Regions from separate parts of the Homo sapiens genome. Here region 2 is linked to region 1. The links come from fine-mapping of genetic effects on gene expression. Tissue or cell type: hippocampus. Region 1 holds a variant in brackets; the other region holds the start of a gene. All regions are shown on one strand. Distances are between the middles of the regions.

The links. PIP is the estimated chance that this variant, and not a neighbour inherited with it, causes the effect. A credible set is the group of variants that fine-mapping cannot tell apart.
Region 2: it holds the start of RESP18, and the variant in region 1 is the best candidate, but not a certain one, in a credible set for the expression of RESP18 in hippocampus (GTEx, PIP 0.77).

The regions. Positions count from the first base shown.
Region 1 is chr2:219,302,735-219,305,647 of GRCh38, reverse strand. It overlaps PTPRN (protein tyrosine phosphatase receptor type N), which reads left to right. Exons shown (of 23, transcript NM_002846.4): 4 at 1,817-1,913; 5 at 2,811-2,913. Among named protein-coding and RNA genes, the nearest start is that of PTPRN, 5.2 kb to the left of the region's middle. The variant G/A (reference allele first, on the strand shown) is at 1,754.
Region 2 is chr2:219,331,131-219,334,043 of GRCh38, reverse strand. RESP18 (regulated endocrine specific protein 18) reads left to right here and starts at 1,300. Exons shown (of 6, transcript NM_001441699.1): 1 at 1,300-1,520. The coding sequence starts at 1,415.

The DNA of each region.
Region 1 (2,913 bases):
ATAGATGGTAATTACACCCATGAGGTGGATGAGATAACCAAAAGATTGAGTGTCTATTAAGAAGACCAAGGATCAAGTCCTAGATAATTCTTCTATTAAAAGGACCAGGCCAGGTATAGTGGCTCACACCTATAATCCCAATACTTTAGGAGGCTGGGGCAGGCAGGTCACGAGCTCAGGAGTTCGAGACCAGCCTGACCAACATGGTGAAACCTTGTCTCTACAAAAAATACAAAAATTAGCCAGGCATGGTGGCGAGCACCTGTAATCCCAGCTACTCAGGAGGCTGAGGCAGGAGAATCACTTGAACCTGAGAGGCAGAGGTTGTGGTGAGCCGAGATCGCACCACTGCACTCCAGCCTGGGTGATAGAGCGAGACTCCATCTCAAAAAAAAAAAAAAATGAGGACCAGGATAAAGAGAGGAACCATCAACTTCCTCTCAGGGAGACTGAGAAGGGGAAGCCAGTGGAGTAGGATTAAAAACAACAGTGTTCAGTGTCCCAGAAGCCAGGAGAAAGTGTATCAAGGAGGAGGAGTGACCAACAGTGTCAAATGATGATTACGGGATAAGTAAAATAAGATATGAAAATTGACCACTAGATTTGGACATGCAGACAAAGCTGCTCTTGATGAGAGCAGCTTTGGTAGAATAGTTGGGAATAAAATCCTGAATAAAGTGGATTAAGAGGGAATAGAAAGAAAGGAATTGGATACAGTCAGTATAGACAACTTTTTCTAGAAGTCTTGCTGCAAAGATATGGAGTGATCCCTAGAGAAGAAAGTGGGATCAAGCAGTATTTTTCTTAAGATGGAAGAAATTGCATATTGTTTGCATGGGAATAATGTGAATAATTCAGTAGAGAACAAAGGAAATTATGTAGGAAAGAAGAGAGAATTGCAAGGAGAATGTTCCTGAATAGGTGAGAGGGGATGAAATCTAGTGCTCAGAGGAACTGGCTTTAAATAGGAACACAGACAGCTCATCTAATGTGAATAAGCAAGGAGGCAGGTGTGGATGTTGGTAGATACCAGAATACAAGTTAAGAGCAGCACAGATTTTAAATCCAGAACTAGAGAAGAAAAAATGAGGGTGAAAAGTGGGAAATTATTCCTTTAGAATAAGTGACTGAACTTTCCTGAGAGCAGAGTTTTTTTGGGGGAAAGAGTCAAACAGGAGAGCTGTCTATGAATAAGATGATGATGATAATGGTGATGATGATGATGATGACGACAATGAAGATGATGATACATGTTTAAAACATGTGGATTATGCTTTAGAGTTTTCTAAGCACTTTGATTTCCCTGATCACACTTGATCTTCACAACAGCCCCCTGAAATATGTATCGTTTCCACTTTACAAACAGAGAAAGTTGAGGTTCAGGGTCAACACAAAGAATAATAACAATAGTAATAATAATTATGGTAATAGCATTTGTTAAAAGTTCACTACATGACAGGCACTATTCTAACCGTTTGATATGTATATGTGTTATTTTAATGATAATAACAATCCTAGGAGGTATAAATCCCCATTTTATTGATGAGGGAATTGAGGCTTGGAGAGGTTCAGCAACTTGCCCAAGGTTACATAATTCATCAGTAGCAAAGGCAGGATTCAAACCCAGGTGGTCTGGCTCCAATAGCTGTACCTGAGGGTGGGAAGAAGACAGCTCAGATCACCCACTGAGTTTGTCCCTCTACTCTGACAAACCCCATGAGCTGCAGGGCAGAGGGTACAGTTCTGATCCCCA[G/A]TGGTCCCCGTTACTGGATCCCCAGACTCCTGAACCAACTTACGCTGTCCTCTTTCCTGACAGGATTGTCCTGGCACGATGACCTCACCCAGTATGTGATCTCTCAGGAGATGGAGCGCATCCCCAGGCTTCGCCCCCCAGAGCCCCGTCCAAGGGACAGGTAGGCAGCCTTTCTCTACAACTCTAGCAATGGTGAGGCTGATGAATCTGTGGTTGTCCTAATTGATGGAGAGAAGGGGAAGGAAGTGGGCACCAAGGCCAGCATGCTGGGGCACAGGTAAAGAGGTGCAGGAATGGTCACTCTCTGACATGCTCACATGACCAAGAGGAGCTGAGCTCATCTCTAGGGATCCAGAAAAACGGGCATTTTTTGAATGTTTTGAAAAACATTGACATTGGCTACTTTAAAAGAAGCATCAATGTAGTCATCATGGGAGAAATTAGAATGCTGTTGGACTGAAGTTGTTCAATATTCCATTTCATTACTATGTGAATTTCTATATGACAGGAGCCACCATCATCTTTTTGTGGTTAGGGCCTCTAAAGGCATCATTCAGACTGCAAAGCAGAGGAAAGTAAATGAGGTTTAGGGAGCTCAGATGATGATACCAGGATGAAGATGGCATAGTGGTGGGGGGTGGAGGAGCAGTCCTGAATATTTGGACATATACTTGGAGAGCCAGGTGTGGGGACATGGCACACAGGGGCAACGGGGACAGCTGCAGCCACAGTTCATCTAGAGAAATTCCTGGTTGCCTTCCCCTGCTCCTGTTTGCCCCTTCTCCATCCCCAGCCTCATGATTACCCAGCCTTTGCAGTTGTTTCAGAGACTCAGCCATGCTCACCAGGGAGGCAGATACCTCTGCCCTCAGCTTGGCCCTCTGGTCCCTCCCCATTCCCACCCAGCCCATCTCTCTTCCCCTGAGGTCACTCAGTTTCTAAAGAGGTCAGGCCTGCTCTTAACCGCTGAGCCTGCCTGGCCCCGAATAGTTCTGCCTTGCAGGCTCTCTATGCCCTTTCCCCCGCTCCAACACACACACTTTGCTTTCCTCTACAGGTCTGGCTTGGCACCCAAGAGACCTGGTCCTGCTGGAGAGCTGCTTTTACAGGACATCCCCACTGGCTCCGCCCCTGCTGCCCAGCATCGGCTTCCACAACCA
Region 2 (2,913 bases), 28 kb before region 1:
AGATTTTGGCAGCTGTCACAGTGTTAGGGTGACTGAGTTTGGAGTTCAGGACCCGTAAAATAGAGAGTTTTGGTAAATGACTTTGGGTTATGTTGAAATCCAAAAAGGACCACACCTTAGCCATAAGCACCATATCCCAGGACTAAGAGATACAGGCTAGAATTGAGAATAGGATGAAGTACTCCTTCCCTAACCAGACTGCCACAGGATCAAGACTTTTTACCAAAAATTTAATTGCCTGCCAGAACAAACTCAAACTATTACCCTTTAAAGATAATAATATAATTCAGATCCTTTGTAATGTATCAACCCCAAATGTTCACTATACAAACCCTTAGGTTTAAGTAATCCACTATCTCGACCTCCCAAAGTGCTGAGATTACAAGCATGAGCCACCATGCCCAGTTTAATAAATGTTTTAAGCTTAATGAAAAAAAATTTAAATGCCAGTCTAAGAGTTAGAAAGCTCACAAACTAGCTTGTAAGTACACAAGAGTGAAAGCAAGAGGTCAGTTAGCTAGTTAGTTACTACAACAACTCAATTTAAAAGAGTACAGTGTCCAAGGCCTGGCATGGTGGCTCATGCCAGTAATGCCAACACTTTGGGGGGCCAAGGTGGGAGGATTGCTTGAGCCTAGGAGTTTGAGATCAGCCTGGGAAACATGGCAAAACCCTGTCTCTACAAAAATAAATAAATAAATAAATAAAATTGGCTGGGCATGGTAGTGTGCACCTGTAGTCCCAGCTACTCTGGAGCCTGAGGTTGAGTAGAGGTCGAGCGGAGGTTGTGGTGATCTGAAATTGCAAGACTGTCTCAAAAAAAAAAAAAAAAAAAAGTACAGTGTGCAGTGGTTTGGACCAAGGCGATGGCAGTGGATGTGGAGTAAAGTGGATGGATGTGCCATATATAATATATAATATATAATATTATATATATATATATAGCAGATCGAACCTATATGATTTCTAAAGGGTTTTAAGTGGGCCAGAGTAAAGAGTGTCAAGGATAATAAAATAAACTAAATTCCTTGAGTGCCTACTGTTTCATCGCTGTTCATATTTGATTCTCACAACAAACCTGAGTAGGTACAACTTGCACCCGTATCTTACGTGCCATCCGTTTCTGCAGCCTTAGGACTGGGAGTACAGGCGGTGGTTCTTGGGACCCAGCTAATGCCCGAAAGGAGCCGGGTCAGGAATTCCAAGAGATGAGGGTGGGGAGGCGGTAGGGGAAGGAGCTGGGGAGGCGACCGCAGGGGCAGGGCCCGCTCACGATTGGCTGAACTGCCGAGGAGGGTTAAACAGATTCGGAGTCGCGGGCTGGTGGGAAGCTGCAGCCCCGCTCAGCCCCTCGGCCGTGGCCGCTACCTTCACTGAGACTTGGCCGGGGAGTGAGCGCGCCGAGCCTGGGAGGATACAGCACCCACTGTGGCCTGGGAGCTCCGAGGGGCTCCAGCTGCTTGTCTGCTTCCTGCTGCTGAACAGCTGCCCGGGGGGCTGCAGCGACACTAGTGCCCACGGTCAGGAGGAACCCTGGGGGGTGCGGGCAGGGCCAAGAAAGCGATCCTGAGAAGTGGGGGTCTGCAGGGGGCCTCAAGGCTAGGAAACTTGGAAGTAAAAGAATGTGCTTAAGGACGTGAGAAGAGAAAAAGGTAGACAGCGTCTAGCGGAAAGAGGCATAGGCTTCAGATAGGCTGGGCATATGGGGTCTGGACTCACGAGAAGTGGGTTCAGGTGAAAATTGGGGATTTGGGAAGAGGTCAGAAAGACAAATGAACAGAGAGAGGTAAAACTGGCCTATGTGGCCACAGGAGAAGCAAGAAAGGCCAGAAAAAGAGTTGACCAGGGCTGCGGGTATCGGGGTCTTGGCTCCAGGGAGAAGGCTGGGCCAGGAGACGAGCCAGGGCTTCCTCGTGCTGTGATCCGGTTTCCAATAAGGGGACCGCTGAGGGAAAGCAGGATGGAGGGGGAATGGGACCATCCTTCTCCCCTTCCCCCGCACCAATCCGCGTAGACCCCGCGCTGACTCACGTGCCAGACTGCGCACACTCGAGAACTCCTGCGCAGAGCGCATGGGGAAGAGAGCGCAAACTCCTAGTCTGTCGCCCCCTCTCCCTGATTTTTGGTTTTAGAGGCCAATGCAGCGGATTCAGGAACAGCTGTGGGAGGAGGCCTGGTGGCAATGAGAGGATGAGGGCCGTGGGGAAGGACCGCCAAGCCTTGCGGAGATGTCTCGCCCACATTCCGCCCAGCGCCGCCGCCACGCTGGCCTCCCCACCTCTCAGCACCACGGACAGCGCCAGGCGCGCTCCGGGTCCACGCCGAGCCCGAGCGGGTCACCACTCCTTCCCACCAGTCCTGGGAACGCTGCCTCAGAGAATCAGCTCCCCTTCCCGAAGCTCTTTCCCTTCTCCTCAGGGTGTTGGAGGTTCCACTACTTCCTTAAGGAGGCTTTCTCATCCCCAAATGTCTCTACTTAAAACTTTGTCACGCTTACCCCCAGGAAATTATTAGACATCCATTTGACTGGGTAGGAGAATTCCCTTTTCTAAAGACCTGTCCAGAATGGCTCATGGTAACTACACTATAGCAAAAAACAGACTGTCCTCCAGCCCTATCTCACTGATCTGGAAGAAGGAAGGTGTGCATAGCATTAGGGGTTCTCTTCCCCAACCCCTGTCCTTCCTCTCATGCACAGTTGGGCAAACTGTGGGCTTCAGGAAAAGGATCCAGAGCCTCAAACCCTAAACAAACCAATACCTTTTCTAATGATTCCAGGCCTCCTCCCTAACACTTCCAGGCTTCAATGACTTCCCTAAGATGAAGCTCACCTGTTTCCCCATGCCCCACCTACCCACCTGATTACTATTCCCATGTGCTCAGCTTTCTGAGCCTCTGCGCATCTGAACTTCT